3 linked regions of the Homo sapiens genome follow. The protein of the gene in region 1 purifies or fractionates together with the protein of each later gene. This does not show direct contact. Each region holds a gene or a part of one and is shown in the gene's direction. Other genes may lie near its edges. The genes, in order: CSTPP1, TBC1D19 and SANBR.

Evidence for each region.
Region 2: the proteins of CSTPP1 (region 1) and TBC1D19 purify together in Homo sapiens (co-immunoprecipitation; 2 studies listed by BioGRID and IntAct, with this or other methods). This does not show direct contact.
Region 3: the proteins of CSTPP1 (region 1) and SANBR purify together in Homo sapiens (co-immunoprecipitation; 2 studies listed by BioGRID and IntAct, with this or other methods). This does not show direct contact.

What each region holds. Positions count from the first base shown.
Region 1 is NC_000011.10:46,932,708-46,939,842, forward strand, and holds the start of CSTPP1 (centriolar satellite-associated tubulin polyglutamylase complex regulator 1), read left to right. Parts: upstream 1-4,098; coding exon 4,099-4,144; intron 4,145-7,135. UniProt on the Homo sapiens protein: Regulator of the tubulin polyglutamylase complex (TPGC) that controls cytoskeletal organization, nuclear shape, and cilium disassembly by balancing microtubule and actin assembly.
Region 2 is NC_000004.12:26,586,974-26,594,086, forward strand, and holds part of TBC1D19 (TBC1 domain family member 19), read left to right. Parts: intron 1-7,113. UniProt on the Homo sapiens protein: May act as a GTPase-activating protein for Rab family protein(s).
Region 3 is NC_000002.12:61,082,827-61,089,939, forward strand, and holds part of SANBR (SANT and BTB domain regulator of class switch recombination), read left to right. Parts: intron 1-327; coding exon 328-488; intron 489-5,332; coding exon 5,333-5,419; intron 5,420-5,531; coding exon 5,532-5,642; intron 5,643-7,113. UniProt on the Homo sapiens protein: Negatively regulates class switch recombination or isotype switching in splenic B-cells.

The sequences.
Region 1 (7,135 bases):
CCGTTTGCTTTTCTATAGTCTTCAATTATAGGGAGGATTTTCTTCCCTATCAATCTCTTAATAGGTCTTCTGCAGAGCCAGAGATGTCTATTAATTTTCTCATTATAAAATCAGAAATTATAATCTGATAAATTGATGTCTCAGCTGGGTGCAGTGGCTCATGCACTTTGGGAGACTGAGGCAGGAGGATTGCTTGAGCTCAGGAATTCGAAACCAGCCTGGGCTACCTAGCAAGACCTTGTCTCTACAAAATTAAAAATATTATCTGGATGTGGTGGCATGCACCAGTGATCCCAGCTACTCAGGAGGCTGAGGTGGGAGGATTACTTGAGCCCAAGAATTCCAGGCTACAGTGAGTTGTGATTGTGCCATTGCACTCCAGCCTGGGTGACAAAGGGAGACCTTATATATACTAAAAAACAAAACAAACAAACAAACAAAAAACAAAAGGTGCAGTGGCTCACACCTGTAATCCCAGCACTTTGGGAGACTGAGGCGGGTGGATCACTTGAAGTCAGGGGTTCGAGACCAGCCTGGTCAACATGGCGAAACCCTGTCTCTACTGAAAATACAAAAATTAGCCGGGTGTGGTGGCACACACCTGTAGTCCCAACTACTCGGGAGGCTGAGGCAGGAGAATGGCTTGAACCTGGGACACAGAGGTTGCAGTAAGCAGAGATTGCACCATTCCACTCCTTTCTGGATGATGGAGTGAGCCTCTGTCTCAAAAAACAAACAAACAAAAACAAAAACCATCTCAATATATTCTCTCTCTTGTTTTTTTCTTATTGTTCTGAATTTGATGTTTACAGTCGTCATGCTGTAGTACTGCCTTTAACATCCGATGCTCTATTTATCATCAATATCTTATCACTTGCCTCTTTTCAGGATTATGGAGTTGTCTTCTGACTTACCGATTTACCTCGGTGATTTTTTTTTTTGGTAAATTTTTAAGAAATATATTATGATAAGTTAAGAACCTGAAAAGTCAATTTAAATCAAAGGCTGACATTTTTTTTCTTTCTTTCACATTCAAGTCACAAAAAATACACTTAATTTTAACAACTCTTATATATTTCTACTCTTCTTAAGACTGATGTAGTGTATGTTTCATTGAAAAATTTCACCAATAACCAATGTGTTTCAAAAATCTATTATCATGTAATCTGTGACAGAAGAGAAATCTAGCAGTGGCTTCTTTTTGGGAAAAACAAACACTGTCTGGAAGGTCATCACATCTGCTTAAAAAATTTTAAAGATTTTCAGGCCACTCATTTATTATTTGTTTTCAGGTTATAATACATGCCTATTATAGAAAGTTTAAGACTATAGAAAAATATAAAGAAGAAAAATGTAAACAGTCAGTAATTCCACTACCAGTAAGGCCACCTGTTATTTCGGTGAAACTTCAAATTTTTGTGAAGCCTTACTCTAGCAACCTCCTACTTTTCTAAGTCCTCCTCCTCAATAGACTGTTCAGGACATTCAGAGTGGAAGACTGACTTTGAATACAGGGGTCCTTCGGATTTTTATGGAAGGGATGGAACTGTAGGAAAAACCTACAAATTGCTCCAGAGATGACATCTTGTTCTTATTTAGCCTTCTTTGAGTCATTAACAGTCGGGCGCCACTGGTGCTGAAACTTATCATTATTATAACCACAAATGGGTTAATGCCCAAACAAAGCTATATTCTTGGGGCTGGTTCCCAGCTCCACCACACAGACCCCAGCAGCCAGCACCCGCCAAGTCCCAGGATAATGCTCCACAAATAAGACGATGTCAAATGTTCAGCCTGGACTCAACATTATCTTCTTCTATCTGGGAGCTTCCAGTTGCTAGCAGGGCAGAGCAAAAGGAAAAATAAATAAATAAAAGCCAGGTCAACAAACCCTAAAAAAAGAGACTGTGTGGTTTAGTGGTCAGACCACTGGCCTGGATGTTGGGATAGCTGAGATCCAGTTGTAGCTCTACCACTATGTGGCTGCATGATGCTAGACAAGTCACTAGACAAGTCACTGTTGTGACTTGTGCCTCAGTTTCCCTAGTTAGAAAATGGAAAAGTGCCTTAGAAAGGTTTTTTTTTTTTTTTTTTTTTTTTTTTTGAGACGGAGTCTCGCTGTGTCGCCCAGGCTGGAGTGCAGTGGTGCGATCTTGGCTCACTGCAACTTCTGCCTCCCCGGTTCAAGTGATTCTTCTGCCTCAGCCTCCTGAGTAGCTGGGATTACAGGCGTGCGCCACCACGCCTGGCTAATTTTTGTATTTTTAGTAGAGATGGGGTTTCTCCATATTGGCCAGGCTGGTCTCGAACTCCTGAACTCGTGATCCGCCCACCTCAGCAGAAAGTTTTTATGAGGACAAATAAGATTATTTGCAAATAGCTACAAGTTGCTTGGGAATAAAGTAAAATTATCACTTAATAATTACTATGGTATTACCTTATTAATAAAATAGTAAAAAGCCACAGTTATGGAACATATGAACCTCCCATAACCTCAAGCTAGATGGGGGAAGCAGATAAGAAGGCAATTAAAAAAAAATCAGATTTGCTGGACTTCACACCAAATACCAAATTAGTAAATTTGCCTCAAGACACTAAGCCCTGCTCCTACTTTGGCTCTGTCCTTTTAACCTCACCACATCCAAACTTAGAGTGACTCACAGGAGCCTAGAATTGAGACACATATACAATTTTAAGGGAAAGCAAGAATTAGGAGGTTTGAGGCTCCTTACTGGAGGACGCTAAGAATAGGCCACTCGGAACACAAAGAGAAGAACCTCCTCTTTCCTTTTCCTCCCAGTGTAGGTGGTCTACTGGTTTCCCAGTCATTCCTTTGATAGCTTGATTTTGTTTTCTTTGTCTCTTTTTCACAAACCTCACCTTGTTGGAGGGGGAGGGCACTAAAAAAGTGAGGACAGAGTGGCTTTTTCTGCTATGTCTGAACTGTGTCTAGTGCTACAGATCTCTGACCTGTTGTCAGGAGTGGAGAGGGGCGAAAAGAAATATTTAGGAACTTGAAAACCAGTGAATATTCTCTTAAAGAAGAAGTGAGCAATTGGGCATATAGGGAAAAAAATCTAACTGGTGTCCTCGTTTCTGCAGCCCCTCTCCCTCAAGAAGAGCAATGTCTTGGTAGGAAAAAGGAAAGACACCTGGGAAAGGTACCAAATAGTAAGGGCTAGGAATAGAAAGAAGAACCAAAGATAAAAAGGAATTGAGCCTGGGCGCGGTGGCTCACGCCTGTAATCCCAGCACTTTGGGAGGCCTGAGGCAGGCGGATCACCTGAGGTCGGCGGATCACCTGAGGTCAAGAGTTTGCAGACCAGCCTCGCCAACATGGTGAAACCCCATCTCTACTAAAAACACAAAAAATTAGCCAGGCGGAGTGGCGGGCGCCTGTAATCCCAGCTACTTGGGAGGCTGAGGCAGGAGAATCGCTTGAACCCGGGAGGCGCTGGTTGCAATGAACCGAGATCACGCTACTGCACTCCAGCCTGGGCGACTGAGTGAGAATTGAGAAGAAATGGCAATTAGTTCAGAGGACTTAATGAGTACCTTTTGTGTGTCCAGCCGTCATAGGCAGAAAAGACACATCTCTGACCTCTAGAAGCATCCAGGGTATATGCATACGTAAGCACTTTGTAGCAATTTAAGATAGTAAATACCAAAGAGATAAAAATAGCTAATGGGATACTAAGTGTTTATGGGGGCCAAAGGGCGGGGGCTATTACTGAGTTAGGATAAACAGTGTATAAAAGCAGGGATAGTTATGAAATTCAGAAACTGCGTATATGGGCGGCTGACAGTAATTCTTCGACACTGGGAAACATAACGGATTCAAAAGAATTCTTCATCTCAGATTCCTCTAAAACCAAGTCTTCAAGAATGGGAGTCCAAAGAAACCTGGACCATCGTGAAGCGACTGCCCCCGGAACTTGAGTGGCCAGCTCCACTTTGCGACACGGAGACTGTTTGTGTGACACCTCCTCCAGCTCCCGTCCCCCTTCCGCCGCGTGGGTGCCATGGCAACGGAGAGAGACGGCAACCTGGGTTCCGGAAGCCGGAGAGCTGGAGCTTTGAAGCCACCCCGGTCAAAGGATGCTGAGTCCGGAGCGCCTAGCCCTACCGGACTACGAGTATCTGGGTAGGAACCCCCTTTAACTTTGGGGAGGGAAAGACGTGCAGACGAATTAGGCCAGGGTCTGGGAGGAGGCGGGGGCGGGGTCTGAGTGGGATCGGGTCCGGGTGGTATGGGGAGGGGCGGAGAGGCGGGGGTTCCAGGGCCTGAGCCTGTAAGGCCGAGCAGGAAGGAAAAAAGCACCTGGGAAGTAAAGAATGTTTGAAGTGTAGGGGCTGGAACTCAGGCAATGTGGATTGTGTTCAAATGGGTCAGGTTGGCGTTGAGGATTTGGGGCCCTGTTGGGGTATTATTGATATGCTGGTAGTGGAGTAAGAATAACCTTGGAACCTCAAGTGCCAAATCAGTCAGCGAACATTTCGAGCTTTTCTTTTTCATTAGGCACTGTGCTAAGCATTTTTCATGCATCATTCTTCATTTGAATTTCTCAACAGCCCTAGGAGGAATTACCGTGTTTTCTTCCAGTTTTGCAGGTGGAGAAACTGGGGCTGAAGAGGTAACTTGCGTTAAGTTAGGCCACACAGCTAGAAAATGGTAGCGCTAGGATCAGAACCGGATTTGCCCACTCCAACAGAACTTGAGATATTGACTTGGCTCTTGAGCTAAGACTGTATATGTAGTACTTTGTTGAGCATCTTTAGTGTATAAGGCATTTAATGAATGAAAAAAGGCACACACACGCATAGATATGTACACACACACACATATGCACACAATACACATTTTATTTTATTTTATTTTTGAGACGGAGTCTAGCTCTGTCGCCCGGGCTGGAGTGCAGTGGCGCGATCTTGGCTCACTGCAAGCTCCGCCTCCCGGGTAGCTGGGACTACAGGCGCCCGCCACCTCGCCCGGCTACTTTTTTGTATACTTAATAGAGACGGGGTTTCACCGTGTTAACCAGGATGGTCTCGATCTCCTGACCTCGTGATCTGCCCGCCTCAGCCTCCAAAAGTGCTTGGATTACAGGCGTGAGCCACCGCGCCCGGCCACAATACACATTTTAAATAATTCATAGACTTTTATTTTTTTAAAGACGTTTTGTTTTGTTTTGTTTTGTTTTTTGAGACAGAGTTTCTCTCCTGTTGCCCAGGCTGGAGTACACTGCAACCTCTGCCTCCCGGATTCAAGCGATTCTCCTGCCTCAGCCTCCCGAGTAGTTGAGATTACAGGCATGCGCCACCACGCCAGGTTAATTTTATATTTTTAGTAGAGACGGGGTTTCACCATGTTGGTCAGGCTGGTCTCAAACTCCTGACCTCAGGTGATCCGCCCACCTCGGCCTCCCAAAGTGTTGGGATTACAGGCGTGAGCCACTGCACATGGCGAGAAGTTTTAAGTTTACAGAAAATTGAGCAGATAGTACGGCGAGTTCCCATATACCTTGGGTCTCCCTCACTCACAGTTTCCGCTATTATTTACATCTTGCATTAGTGTGGTACATTTGTTACAATGGATAAACATATATATTTATAATATATAATAATATATTATATATTATTATTATTATATAGATATATTATTATAGATACATATTATTAACTAAAGTCCATAGTTTACATTAGGGTTCTTTGTGTTGTTCAGTTCTGTGGGTTTTGATAAATGCATGTCATGTATTCACCATTCCATTATCATACAGAATAGTTTCACTGTCCTGAAAAATCCCCTGTGCTCCACCTATTGATCCTTCTCCCTCCCCCTGCAGCCCTTGCCAACCACTGATCTTATGGTCTCTAAAGTTTTGCCTTTTCCAGAATATCATGTAGTTGGAGTCATACAGTGTGTAAATTTTTCAGATGGGCTTCTTTAACTTAGCAGTAAGCATTTAAGTTTCCTCCATGTCTTTCTGTGGCATGATAACTCATTTCTTTTTATTTCTGAATAATATTCCATTGTATGGATGTACCATGCACATCTTTTTTTTTTTTCTTCTTCTTTTTTTTTTTTTTTGAGACAATGTCTGGCACTGTCACTCAGGCTGGAGTGCAGTGGCACTATCACGGCTCACTGCAGCCTCAACCTCCGGGCTCAAGTGATCCTGCTACCTCAGCCTTCCAAGTAGCTGGGACTACAGGCACATGCCACCATCCCTGGTTAATTTTTTAATTTTTTGTAGAGAAAGAGTCTCACTATGTTGTCCAGGTTGGTCTTGAACTCCAGGGCTCAAGCAAGCCTCTTACTGTGGCCTTCCAAAGTACTGAGATTACAGGTGTGAGTCACTGCACCTGGCTTACATCTTTTTTTTTTTTTTTTTTTTTTTTTGAGATGGAGTTTCACTCTTGTTGCCTAGGCTGGAGTGCAATGATGCGATCTGGGCTCACCCCAACCTCCGCCTCCTGGGTTCAAGTGATTCTCCTGCCTCAGCCTCCCTAGTACCTGGGATTACAGGCATGCGCCACCACGCCTGGCTAATTTTGTATTTTTAGTAGAGATGGGTTTCTCCATGTTGGTCAGGCTGGTCTCAAACTCCTGACCTCAGGTGATCCACCCACCTCGGCCTCCCAAACTGCTTGGATTACAGGCGTGAGCCACCGCGCCCAGCCAACATCTTTTTAAATGAAAAACAATTCTGGTTTACATTTTGTTTAACTTATTTTAAAAATTAATTTTAAAATATTTTTTAAGGTTGGTAATATGGAAACTTGATTCAAAGTATTTTTTAGGCCTGGCATGGTGGCTCATGCCTGTAATCCCAATACTTTGGGAGGCTGACGTAGGAGGATTGCTTGAGGTCAGGAGTTCAAGACCAGACTGGATGATAGAGTGAGACCCTGCCTCTAAAATGCATAGATAGATAGATAGATAGATAGATAGATAGATAGATAGATAGGTAGATGTTTTTAGTGAAAAGCCTACCCCTTTGCCTCCATCTGCCCAGTTTCCATCCATCCTCAGCCTCCCAAAAGTAACCACTATTATTGTTTTCCTGTGTATCTTTCCAGAGTTTATTATATACATAAAGGAGTATACAGTGCATACTTTTTCATTTAATACATC
Region 2 (7,113 bases), on another chromosome or scaffold:
CCAGTGCAATGTTTTGCAGATGCTTTTTTGCAGGTTGAGGAAGCTCTATTCTATCCCTAGTTTTCTGAGAGTTTTATCATGAATGGATGTTGAACTTTGTTAAGTACTTTTTTATATCTGTAGATATGTTCATATTATTTTTCCTGCTCATGTTGATATGATGAATAATACTGATTGGCTTTGAATGTTGCACCAATTTTGTATTCCTGAGATAAATTCCACTTGGTTATGATGCATTATTCTTTTTATATATTTCTTGACTCAATTTGCTAACATTTTGCTGAAGATTTTGTAACTGTATTTATGAAAGATACTGGTTTGTGGCCAGGCGCGATGGCTCATGCCTGTAATCCTAGCACTTTGGGAGGCCAAGGTGGGCAGATCGCTTGAGCTCACGAGTTTGAGACCAGCCTGGGCAACATGGCAAAACCCTATCTCCACAAAAAATACAAAAATTAGCCAGTGTGGCAGTGCGCACCTGTAGTCCCAGCTACTTGAGAGGTTGAGGTGGGAGGATGGCTTGAACCTGGGTAGCAGAGGTTGCAGTGAGCAGAGATCGCACCACTGCACTTCAGCCTGGGTGATAGAGCCAGACCTTGTCTCAAAAAAAAAAAAAAAAAGATATTTCTTTGTAGTTTTTTTTTTTCTTGTAACACTTTGTCTGCTTTCGATACCAGTTAATGATGATCTTATAAAATAAGTTGGGAAGTGTTCCTTATTTTCTGGAAGAATTTATGTAGAATTAATATTATTTGCTCCTTAAATATTTGGTAGAGTTCCCAGCAAAGTCACTGGTGCCTAGAGTTTTCTTTATGGACACATTTTTAATTAAAAAAATTCAATTAAAAATATATGCAGGCCATTCAGGTTATCTATTTCTTCTTCTGTAAGCTTTTGTAGTTTTTATGTTTCAAGAAGTTGCCGCACTTAATTTATTTTAACGAATTTACTGGTATAAAATTGTTTATATGATCCCCTTATATTCCTTTTAGTGTCTGTAGGATTTGTAGTGATAGCCCCTCCTTCCTTCCTTATACTGTCATATGTGTTCTTTTTTTTTTTTTTTTTTTGAGGTGAAATCTCGCTTTGTCGCCCAGGCTGGAGTGCAGTGGCATGATCTCGGCTCACTGCAAGCTCCGCCTCCCGGGTTCACGCCATTCTTCTACCTCAGCCTCCTGAGTAGCTGGGACTACAGGCGCCTGCCACCACGCCCAGATGATTTTTTGTATTTTTAGTAGAGACAGGATTTCACCGTGTTAGCCAGGATGGTCTCGATCTCCTGACCTCGTGATCCGCCCGCCTTGGCCTCCTAAAGGGCTGGGATTAAAGGCATAAGCCACCGCACCTGGCCATGTGTTCTTTTTCCCTAATTAATCTGGCTAGAGATTTATCAATTATATCAATACTTTCAAAGAAGTAGCTCTTGGTTTGATTGTTTTTCTGTTTTCAATCGCTCTGATTTTTTTCCTTTATTATTTTTTTCTGCTTGCTTTGGATTTAATTTGCATTTTTAAAGCTATTTAGGTGAAATTTAAATTTTTGATTTGAGACCTTTATTCTCTTCTAATTAAATGCTCTAAATTTCTTTCTATGTACTGGTTTATCTGTGTCTATAAATTAGGATATAGTCTATTGCCATTTTCACCCAATTAAAATTTAAAAAAATTCTCTTGTGATTTTATGGGTTCTAATAACCCATGGGTTATTTATAAATGTGTTGTTTACCACTATCTTTCTCTGATTGATTTCTAGTTTAATTCTCTTATGGTCAAGAATAAAATATGTATGATTTTAGCTGTTTACTTACTTTTATGATCCAGAATATGTTTTATCTTGTTTGTTTCATATGTACTTGAAAAGCATGCTTATTCTGCTGTTTCTGTTCCATAATTGTCAATTAGGTCTAGTAGGCAATTTTGTTTCAGTATTCTATATCCTTACTGAGTGTAGGGGCTTCAGTCAATATAGACAAGGATCAAGCTGGGTTTGGGTTTTGTTATTGTTGTCATTACCTTCAGTATATCACAGGCTTCAGATTCCTTTGAAACTAGAGGTAGTTAGGAGGCTGAGGTGGGCAAATCACTTAAGGCCAGGAGTTTGAGACCAGCCTCGCCAACATGGTGAAACCCTGTCTCTACTAAAAATACAAAAATTAGCCAGGTGTGGTGGTGCATTCCTGTAATCCCAACTACTCGGGAAGCTGAGGCAGGAGAATTGCTTGAACCCGGGAGGTGGAGGTTGCAGCGAGCCAAGATCGTGCCACTGCCCTTCAACCTAGGGGACAGAGCGAGACTCCATCTCAAAAACACAAACAACAACAACAACAACAACAAAACCCAGTAGTAGACTGCTGTTACTTTGTGCTTGGCATAGATCTTAGGGTACTACAGAGTTTTTCTCATTGTTTCTACTACATCCTTGACTTTCTTCTGTCTCCTTGCCTGTTCCTCAGGGGGAGATCTCTCTTTGTGCTCTTGTCCCCAGCAGAAGTCTGTTGTTTGTTATTCAGTCCTGGGCTCACAGTAGGTGCAGGAGTCATCTGTTTTTCTGACTCAGTCCATGTGCTTTATCCTTGGATGTGGAGCTTTCCCAGCTTTGGCATGTTCCATCCCCTTATCCCTTTGGCAGCCCAGTTCTGCCTTGTGTCTGTGGTATTGAGTGAAAGACCCATACCTGCCCTGCCCTAGTGCTAATTTACCTCTGCTTTGTATTGTTGTAGGATCCTGGGCCCAAGAGAGTTTTCTTATTTTCCTATGAGGTTGAGGGTTTTTGTATCTATCCCACCCCCAAAAGCAGTGAATTACTGCCTTGTCTTCAGAATGGGAGGGTTTCTGAACCTTCCCCAGTGTTTTTAGTCCTTTGCTTCAGATGAGAGGAGAGTTTGGCCAAGGTAGCAGTTTTATGCTTGTCCTGCAGTGGCAGCCTATCTCGTTTTGCACACCTGTGCCACCAGAGTGCTCTTTGTAGATTTCTGCTCTCAGTCTTTTGTATGGGCACCTGGCATAGACCTATGGAAAAGACTATGCAAATGTGTGTGAATTCCCCTTGCATTTTGGGTTCCAAAATTATTCCAAACCGACACACTAGCCTACATCTTGTCTATGATAGTTAACATTTTAGTTCATTTCTTACTGTCTTGTATGGTAGCTTCCTTTTCCTCCTGTGCTCTGCCAAAGGTGAAGTAGTTTAGAATCTCATTTGTCCTTGAAGGAGCTTGTTACTACTTGGAATTTAATTCACTTGGTTGTCTTATAGCTTCAGTTTACTGATGGGTTCAGAATGTATGATTTTTGAATATTGTACTGTTTTTCTTATTTGGCTGGGGGTGACATTCTTTTATAGTGGCTTTCTACAGTGGAGCTAACAGAACTCCAAGAATTAGGGTATAAATATTGCTATAATGTCGTGAGAATGATTGGTATGTAATTTTCCTTCCTTGTAACCATCTTTGTCACGTTTTATATCAAGGTTATGCTGGCCTCATAAAATGAGTAGGGAAGTGCTGCCTCCCTTTTAAAATTTTATTTGCCATAAGAGTGTTATGAGATTTGTTATTTTTTAAATGTTTGGAAGAATTCTTCAATGAAGCCTGTGTCTGCAGTTTTCTATTTGAGAATATTTTTAAATTAATAGACTTTAGATTTACAGAAAAATTGATCAGAAAGTAGTTTCCATTTATCCCTCTCCTTTGCACAATTTTCATCTATTATTAACATCTTGCATTAGTGTGGTACATTTGTTTCAGTTGAACTAATATTGATACGTTATTATTAACTAAAGTTCATGGTTTACATTAAGGTTCACTCTTTGTCTTGCAGGTCTGTTTTTTTTTTTTTTTTTTTTTTTTTTTTTTTGTGAGTCAGTGTCTTGCTATGTTTGTCTCGCTAGGCTGGTCTCAAGCTCCTGGGCTCAAGGGATCCTCCTGACTCAGTCTCCTAAGTAGCTGGAATTCCAGGTGTTCACCCATGTACATGGCTACTGTGGGTTTTGACAAATACATGGTGTCCTGTATTTATGTATTCACAATTCCAGTATCATACAGAATAGTTTCAGTATTCTAAAAATCCCCTGTGGCTTACCTGCTCATTCCTCCCTTCCCCCTGAGACTCCGGCAACCACTTTTTACTGTCTCTATAGTTTTGCTTTTAAGAATGTCATATAGTTGGAATTATGTGGTATGTAGTTATTTTACTGGTGTCTTTCACTTAGCAATATTCATTTAATGTTCCTCTCTGTCTTTTTGTGGCTTGATAGCTGATTTTTTTTTCTGTTTAGTAATATTTTATTGTATAGATGTACCACAGTTTGTTTATGCATTCACCTGTTGATAGACATCTTGGTTGCATACAAATTTTAGCACTTATGAATAAAACTGCTATAGGGAGCTGAGATCGCACCACTGTGGAACAGGAATTAAAAAAAATTAAAGAATGTGTAAGCAGAAACTCAGTTATATGTAAGAAACCCAATTCCCCTTGAGAAAGAGAAAGAGCTGGAGTCCTTTAAAAATTAACTGCCTGAACTGAAGGAAACAGAGACACAAAAAAACCCTTCAAAAAATCAATGAATCCAGGAACTGGTTTTTTGAAAAGAACAACAAAATTGATAGACCACTAGCAAGGCTAATAAAGAAGAAAAGAGAGAAGAATCAAATAGACACAATAAAAAATGATAAAGGGGATATCACCACTGATCCCACAGAAATACAAACTACCATCAGAGAATACTATAAACACATCTACGCAAATAAACTAGAAAATCTGGAAGAAATGGATAAATTCCTCGACACATACACTCTCCCAAGACTAAACCAAGAAGAAGTTGAATCTCTGAATAGGCCAATAACAGGCTCTGAAATTGAGGCAATAATAAATAGCTTACCAACCAAAAATAGTCCAGGACCAGACGGATTCACAGCCAGATTCTACCAGAGGTACAAGGAGGAGCTGGTACCATTCCTTCTGAAACTATTCCAATCAATAGAAAAAGAGGGAATCCTCCCTAACTCATTTTATGAGGCCAGCATCATCCTGATACCAAAGCCTGGCAGAGACACAACAAAAAAAGAGAATTTTAGACCAATATCCCTGATGAACATCAATGCAAAAATCCTCAATAAAATACTGGCAAACCGAATCCAGCAGCACATCAAAAAGCTTATCCACCATGATAAGTGGGCTTCATCCCTGGGATGCAAGGCTGGTTCAACATATGCAAATCAATAATTGTAATCCAGCATATAAACAGAATCAATGACAAAAACCACATGATTATCTTAATAGATGCAGAAAAGGCCTTTGACAAAATTCAACAGCCCTTCATGCTAAAAACTCTCAATAAATTAGGTATTGATGGGACATATCTCAAAAATAATAAGAGCTGTTTACGACAAACCCACAGCCAATATCATACTGAATGGGCAAAAACTGGAAGCATTCCCTTTGAAAACTGGCACAAGACAGGATGCCCTCTCTCACCACTCCTATTCAACATAGTGTTGGAAGTTCTGGCCAGGGCAATCAGGCAGGTTAAAGAAATAAAGGGTATTCAATTAGGAAAAGAGGAAATCAAATTGTCCCTGTTTGCAGATGACATGATTGTATATCTAGAAAACCCCATCGTCTCAGCCCAAAATCTCCTTAAGCTGATAAGCAACTTCAGCAAAGTCTCAGGATACAAAATCAATGTACAAAAATCACAAGCATTCTTATACACCAATAACAGACAAACAGAGAGCCAAATCATGAGTGAACTCCCATTCACAATTGCTTCAAAGAGAATAAAATACCTAGGAATCCAACTTACAAGGGATGTGAAGGACCTCTTCAAGGAGAACTACAAACCACTGCTCAATGAAATAAAAGAGGATACAAACAGATGGAAGAACATTCCATGCTCATGGGTGGGAAGAATCAATATCATGAAAATGGCCATACTGCCCAAGGTAATTTATAGATTCAATGCCATCCCCATCAAGCTACCAATGACTTTCTTCACAGAATTGGAAAAAGCTACTTTAAAGTTCATATGGAACCAAAAAAGATCCTGCATTGCCAAGTCAATCCTAAGCCAAAAGAACAAAGCTGAAGGCATCACACTACGTGACTTCAAACTATACTACAAGGCTACAGTAACCAAACCAGCATGGTACTGGTACCAAAACAGAGATATAGACCAATGGAACAGAACAGAGGCCTCAGAAATAATGCCACATATCTACAACTATCTGATCTTTGACAAACCTGAGAAAAACAAGCAATGGGGAAAGGATTCCCTATTTAATAAATGGTGCTGGGAAAACTGGCTAGCCATATGTAGAAAGCTGAAACTGGATCCCTTCCTTACACCTTATACTAAAATTAATTCAAGATGGATTAAAGATTTAAATGTTAGACCTAAAAGCATAAAAACCCTAGAAGAAAACCTAGGCAATACCATTCAGGACATAGGCATGGGCAAGGACTTCATGTCTAAAACACCAAAAGCAATGGCAACAAAAGCCAAAATTGACAAATGTGATCTAATTAAACTAAAGAGCTTCTGCACAGCAAAAGAAACTACCGTCAGAGTGAACAGGCAACCTACAGAATGGGAGAAAATTTTTGCAATCTACTCATCTGACAAAGGGCTAATATCCAGAATCTACAATGAACTCAAACAAATTTACAAGAAAAAAACAATCAACCCCATCAACAAGTGGGCAAAGGATATGAACAGACACTTCCCAAAAGAAGACATTTATACAGCCAAAAGACACGTGAAATAATGCTCATCATCACTGGCCATCAGAGAAATGCAAATCAAAACCACAATGAGATACCATCTCACACCAGTTAGAATGGCGATCATTAAAAAGTCAGGAAACAACAGGTGCTGGAGAGGTTGTGGAGAAATAGGAACACTTTTACACTGTTGGTGGGATGGTAAACTAGTTCAACCATTGTGGAAGTCAGTGTGGCGATTCCTCAGGGATCTAGAACTAGAAATACCATTTGACCCAGCCATCCCATTACTGGGTATATACCCAAAGGATTATAAATCATGCTGCTATAAAGACACATGCACACGTATGTTTATCGCGGCACTATTCACAATAGCAAAGACTTGGAACCA
Region 3 (7,113 bases), on another chromosome or scaffold:
AAAAGAAGTTTACATGTTCTGTATACTTGAGTTTATAGACTAAGATTTATACCTGCCACAATTTTAAAAGATGCATTATTATTATTTGAAATATTCTAAAGAAGGTTGAAAATAATTTTTTAGGTATGTATATATGTTGTTACAAATTTGACCTGCTAGATTGCCTTTGGAACAGTACAGATTAAGTCAAAAACTGGGTGGCAAAACCCAGTTAGTGCCTAGCAATATATGGATTAGACTTTTAATGAATTTTATCTTTGAAAGGTATTGCTATGACATTGTCCTTCATGCTACTATTTTCGACATTTATTTTCTATGATTTTTTAGGTTGAACAGTGTATTCAGTATTGCCACAAAAATATGAATGCCATAGTAGCTACCCCATGCAACATGAACTGTATTAATGCAAATCTTCTCACACGTATAGCTGATCTGTTCTCACACAATGAAGTTGATGATTTAAAGGACAAAAAAGATAAATTTAAAAGGTAATTTCAAAAGTTTAATTTTAAACCTAATACTCCTGTTAAAAGAAATATATTTCTATTTCATGTGAGTGAAATATTCTTTCTTTTTTCTTTTTTCTTTGAGAAAGGTTCTCACTCTGTTGTTCAGGCTGGAGTGCAGTGGTGCAATCTTGGCTCACTGCAGCCTCAACCTCCTGAGCTCTGGTGATCCTCCCACCTCAGCCTCCCAAGTAGCTGGGACTACAGGAATGCACCACCATGCCCAGCTAAATTAAAAAAAAAAAAAAAAATTTTGACCAGGCACAGTGGCTCACGCTTGTAATCCCAGCACTTTGGGAGGCCGAGGCGGGCAGATCACGAGGTCAAGAGATCAAGGCCATCCTGGCTAACATGGTGAAACCCCGTCTCTACTAAAAATACAAAAAATTAGCCAGGTGTGGTGGCAGGCGCCTGTAGTCCCAGCTGCTTGGGTGGCTGAGGCAGGAGAATGGCATGAACCTGGGAGGCGGAGCTTGCAGTGAGCCGAGATCACGCCACTGCACTCCAGCCTGGGTGACAGAGCGAGACTCCGTCTCAAAAAAAAAAAAAACTTTTTGTAGAGACAGGGTCTCACTTTGTTGCCCAGTTTTTGAAATTAATTTTTACTCTCTCTTTTCATTTATAGTTAGCTTATTATTATTATTTTGAGACGGTCTCTCTCTGTCGCCCAGGCTGGAGTGCAGTAGCAAGATACCAGCCACAACCTGTACCTTCAGGCTCAAGCGATCCTTCCACCTCAGCCTTCCAAGTAGCTGGAACCACAGGCGCACGCCACCATGCGCAGCTGATTTTTGTATTTTTTGTAGAGATGGGGGTTTGCTGCGTTGCCCAGCCTGGTCTTGAACTCCTGGGCTCAAGCAATCCACCCGCCTTGGCCTCCCAAAGTGCTGGGATTACAGGTGTGAGCCACCATGCCTGGCCAAAATACTCTATTTTTAGAATATATTTAGAAATATATTTCTATTTTTAAATGAAGTAAGTAAAGTGAAGTAAAATTTATCCAGAGCCAATGGCTCAAGATAAAAATTAGTAATTAGTTACTTTGTATAATGGCCATATGAACATATCGTGATAGTGAATTATGTTAAAAATTATGAAGATATTACTCAAGAGGCTGAGGTGGGATGATTGCTTGAGGCCAGGTGTTGAAAGCTGTAGGGCACTACTATTATCCCTCTGAAAAGCCACTGCACTCCAGCCTGGGCAACATAGTGAGACCCATTTCTAAACAAATAAAAATTATTAAAACAGACCTTAGATAAAGGGAAAAGTGGTATGAAACGAGGTCAGCAGTGGTTATATCATTTAAGGGTTGTTTAGGTCATAGCAAGGAGGATATACTTTAGGTGTGAATGCAAGCAGGGGAGTGACGTGATCTGATTTGTTGTTAAGAGGCCATTTTTGGTTGCTATGTGGAGAATAGACATTAGGGATTTAAGAAGCAAGGAGACCTGTTAAGAGGCTGGTGCAGTAGTCTGTTGAGAAGTGAAAGGGTTTGCACTAGGGTAGAAACGGTAGAGCTGGAAAGAAGTAGATGGACTCAGTTGTTAGATTTGACAGATTTATGAATGTAATGATGTGGGGAGAGAGAGAGGATTCCAGGATAATTATTAGGTTTTCAGTTTGAGTAACTAAGTGGATGGTAGTGCTATTAATGGAGAAAGGAAAGATTGGGAGAGGAAGGAATAGGGTAAGGGAAATCAAGAGATAGCTTTAGTTCTTTTTGAGATTATTTAACATGCTTCTTGGACATTCAAGTGGGATGGCAAGTAGATACCTGGATATATTAATCTGGAGTTTAGGTCAAAGGTCAGGACTTAAAATAGAAATTTAAGAGTAGATGAGATTTGAAACCATGGAACTGGATGAGACCATACTTTTTTTGTATGTCCTGTTCAATAAATCTTTGCCTCCCTAAAAGTGGTGAAGACATTGTCCTATGTTTTTCTGTTATTCATCTTGAATTAATTTTTTTTTGTGGTATGAGGTAGGGGTCAAGGTTCATTTTTTTTTCCCCAAATAGATATCTAGTTGACACAATACCATATGTTGAAAAGACCATCCTTTCCCCCACTGAATTGCACTAGTACGTTTACTATATGTGAAGTCTGTTTCCGAATTGTCCTTTGTGTTCTGTTGATTTCTTTGTCTATCCTTGTATCAGTAGCACACTGTTACACTGTCTTTTTTTTTTTGAGACAGAATTTCACTCTTGTCACCCAGGCTGGAGTGCAATCATGAGATCTCGACTCTCTGCAACCGCCGCCTCCCAGGTTCAAGCAATTCTCCTGCCTCAGCCTCCCAAGTAGCTGGGATTATAGGCACCCACCACCACACCCAGCCAATTTTTATATTTTTAGTAGAGACGGGGTTTCACCATGCTGGCCAGGCTGGTCTTGAACTCCTGACCTCAGGTGATCCGCCCGCCTCGGCCTCCCAACGTGCTGAGATTACAGACGTGAGCCACCACACCCAGCCAACACACTGTCTTAATTTTGATAGCTTTATAATCATTTTTGGTATCTGGTAATTTAAATTCTCAAGTTTTGCCTATCTTCAAGATTGTAGTGTTGTCTATTAAGTTCTTGGCATTTCTATATAAATTTGATAATCAGCTTACCCATTTTCTCTTTCTCACAATCACATAAACCTGCTAGAATTTGGGATTCATGTAATCTGTAGATCAATTTAGGAAGATTTAACCTTTTAATAATAGTGTGTCTTTCAATCCATGAATATGGTATAACCTTCCATTAATTTGAATCCTCCTTAATTTATTTCACCAATGTCTTGTAGTTTTCAATGTAGAGATATTTTTCCTTTTTATTTATTTTATTTTATTTTTTGAGACAGGGTCTTCTTGCTCAGTCACCCAAGCTGGAGGGTAGTGGTACAGCCATGGCTTACTGCGGCCTCAAACTCCTGGGCTCAAGCATCCTCCCACCTTGATCTCCCAAAGTTTTGGAATTAACAAGTGTGAGCCACCATACCCAACCTCTTTTTTAAATTAAATTTATTCCTAAAATAAATTAAATAAATAAATTTATTTAATAAATTAAATTGTTGGTGCTATTGTAAATGCTACTGTATTTCATTTTTTAATTGTTAGCAAAATAGTATTGATAAAGGCTACCCAATATTTAGAGATGCAGCAGAGGAGAAGTAGCCAGTTAAGAACCTGAGAAGGAGGAGCCAGTGAAGTAGAAAGAAAGGCAGAAGGAAAAAAGGTTTCCAAAGAAAGATAATGCTTAAGTGACCAAATGTGTGGAATGCTGCCATCACATAGAGTAAGATGGGGACAGAAATGTGACCAAGTGGATTTAGAAAACTTTTTTCCGGATGTTTTACTTTGCATGACTGCTGAAAAAATTAGCAGTAGCTATTAGGGATAGGTAGGCTCAAGAGAGGATTTTTTGTTTTTTTAGGAAGGGAGATACTAGATTATGTTTATATGCTGATCAGAATGATCCATTAGGAATAAATTAATAATGCAGGGGATTATTCAAGAATTTAATCCTTAAGGGGAACAACACAGAGAGGAATTATCCAAGAGCTAAATAATTGAAAACAGAAATGGAATTCTAAATCCAGATTTGGCTTTTAATAGCAGAAGACATTACACAAGGAAAGATGGAGACAGGTAGGATATACATTTAGAATTAAAGACATACTTAGAAGACTCAAGTTCAGTTATATTATGCATAATAATTAACGTTTATTGAATGCTTAACGTTATATCTAGTACTCTTTAAAAACATCACTTAACCCTCATAAAACTTTATGAGATTGGACATACTAACCACACTTTATACTTGAGAAAACAAGGTTCAAAGAGGTTAAGTAAGTGGCTAAAGATCATATACCTAGTTATTGGTAGGCCTCGGTTGTTAAATTCTCAAAATCTTTAATGTTGCATATTCCAGTAACAAAGGACTAAAAGAGGCCAGGCAAGGTGGCTCAAGCCTGTAATCTCAGCACTTCGGGAGGCCAAAGCAGGAGGATTACTTGAAGGCCAGGAGTCTGAGGCCAGCCTGGGCAACATAGCCAGCCCCAATCTCTACAGATTTTTTTTTTTTTTAATTAACTGAATGTGGTGGCACACAGTAGTCCTAGCTACTTGGGAGGCTGATGTGGGAGATCACCTGATCCCAGGAGTTTGAGGCCCAGGAGTCTGAGGTGCCACTGCACTCCAGCGTGGGTGATGGAGCAAGACCCTGTCTCTAAAAAAATAAAATAAGGCCGGGTGCAGTGGCTCACGCCTGTAATCCCAGTACTTTGGGAGGCTGAGGTGGGCGGATCATGAGGTCAAGAGATCGAGACCATCCTGGCCAATATGGTGAAACCCAATCTCTACTAAAAATACAAAAAATTTGCTGGGCATGGTCATGCACACCTGTAGTCCCAGCTACTCGGGATGCTCAGGCAGGATAATCGCTTGAACCCGGAAGGCAGAGGTTGCAGTGAGCAGAGATCGTGCTGTTGAACTCCAGCCTGGGCGACAGAGTGAGACTCTGTCTCAAAAAAAAAAAGTAAAAATAAAAAATAAAATTTAAAAATGACTGAAAGATAGCTATTTATCAATCTTATTTTTTATGGGAAAATAGATGATTGATCAAGCAGTTCTCATCAGAACTGCTTTATTTTATTTACTTAATAATAAACTGTTAATTTTATTTACTTAGAACACTAAAAATGTATTATAAACTCCCAAGAGAGCCACTAAGGATTTATTAATCTTATTTTACAAATGCACAGATTGGTTTGTTTATTTTCATCACTATAAAGTAGTGTAGAAAATTAATATTTTGGTCATTTGTTGTTAATAGCAAACTTTTTTGTAAGAAGATTGAAAGACTGTTTGATCCTGAGTACTTGAATCCAGATTCTCGGAGTAATGCAGCAACATTGTATAGGTATGCTAACATGTTTTTTTCTTTGGTGTACTTTATAATGCAGCTATATTCTTTAATTTACTACATTTACATTCTTCTTCCTGGATGTTTTTTGTATCTTCTTTGTTTATAGATGCTGTTTGTGTAAGAAACTTTTAACAAAAGAAACAGAAAGAAGAATTCCTTGCATTCCTGGAAAAATCAATGTGGATCGACGTGGAAATATTGTCTATATTCACATAAGGTGTCGTGAAGATAAAATACATACATGTATTTTTGTATATATATATATATAGTTGTTGTTGTTGTTTTGGAGACGGAGTCTTACTCTGTCACCCAGGCTGGCGTGCAGTGGTGTGGTCTTGGCTGACTGCAACCTTCCGCCTCCCAGGTTCAAGCGATTCTCCTGCCTCAGCTTCCTGAGAAGCTGGGACTACAGGCGTGTGCCACCACACCCAGCTAGTTTTTGTATTTTTAGTAGAGATGGAGTTTCACTGTGTTGGCCAGGCTGGTCTCGAACTCCTGACCTCATGATTTGCCCGCCTTGGCCTCCCAAAGTACTGGGATTATAGGTGTGAGCCACCGCTCCCAGCCCAGATTTTTTTTAAATGTGAATTTCTAGCATATTTATAAAAATATAACTACTTTTATAAGGAATGGGATAACATCTTTTCTGCATGTTATCCAACTTTCATTTAGAAAAATACTTTCTAAACAAGGTAGTTGTTAGTACATTTTATTTACTGGGTAAGTGTCATAATGTTTTACACATTAAAATGATAAAAATTATTGTATATTAATCTTGAAAGGTATTCTGGTTAGTGCCTTTAAAATGCTCTCTTTTCACTAACAGATTTTAGTTATCTGTACAAATGTTATATTGAATTTTACAAGAGAACCAAATTTACTTTCAGGTAAATTTTGGTGAGGAAAATTGTCTTTAGCATTGGATTTTCTGTCATCTATTTGTTCTTCATACTTTGTCAGTATTTCATTAATATGTAGGCCGGGCACGGTGGCTCACACCTATAATCCCAGCACTTTGGGAGGCCAAGTCAGGTGGATCACCTGAGGTGAGGAGTTTGAGACCAGCCTGACCAACATGGTGAGACCCCGTCTCTACTACAAAAAACTAGTTGAGCATGGTGGTGGGTGCCTGTAGTCTCAGCTACTTGGGAGGCTAAAGCAGGGGACTCACTTGAACCCAGGAGGCAGAGGTTGCAGTGAACCGAGATAGTGCCACTGCACTCCAGCCTGGTGACAGAGCAAGACTCCATCTGAAAAAAATAAATAAAATAAAAATTAGCTGGGAATGGTGGTGCACACCTGTAACCCAGCTACTTGGGAGGCCAAGGCAGGAGAATCACTTGAACCCGGGAGGTGGAGGTTGCAGTGAGCCGAGAGCACACCATTGCACTCCAGCCTAGACAACAAGAGTGAAACTCCATCTCAAATAAATAAAATAAATAAATACATAATACATATTTCTCTTTATGTTCAAAACAAGTTCTCATTCTGAGTTGAGGGTGGGTGTTGTAACTTGGTATAATGTCTCAGGAGGCAGAAACCTCAAAATGTGTATTCTTTGACATCCTTCATCCAGTATCATTCAGGCTGAAATGCAGTGGTGCAATCATAGCTCACTGCAGCCTTGAACTCCTGGGCTCAAGAGATCTTCTTGCCTGTATTCTCAGCATTTTGGGAGGCTGAGGTGA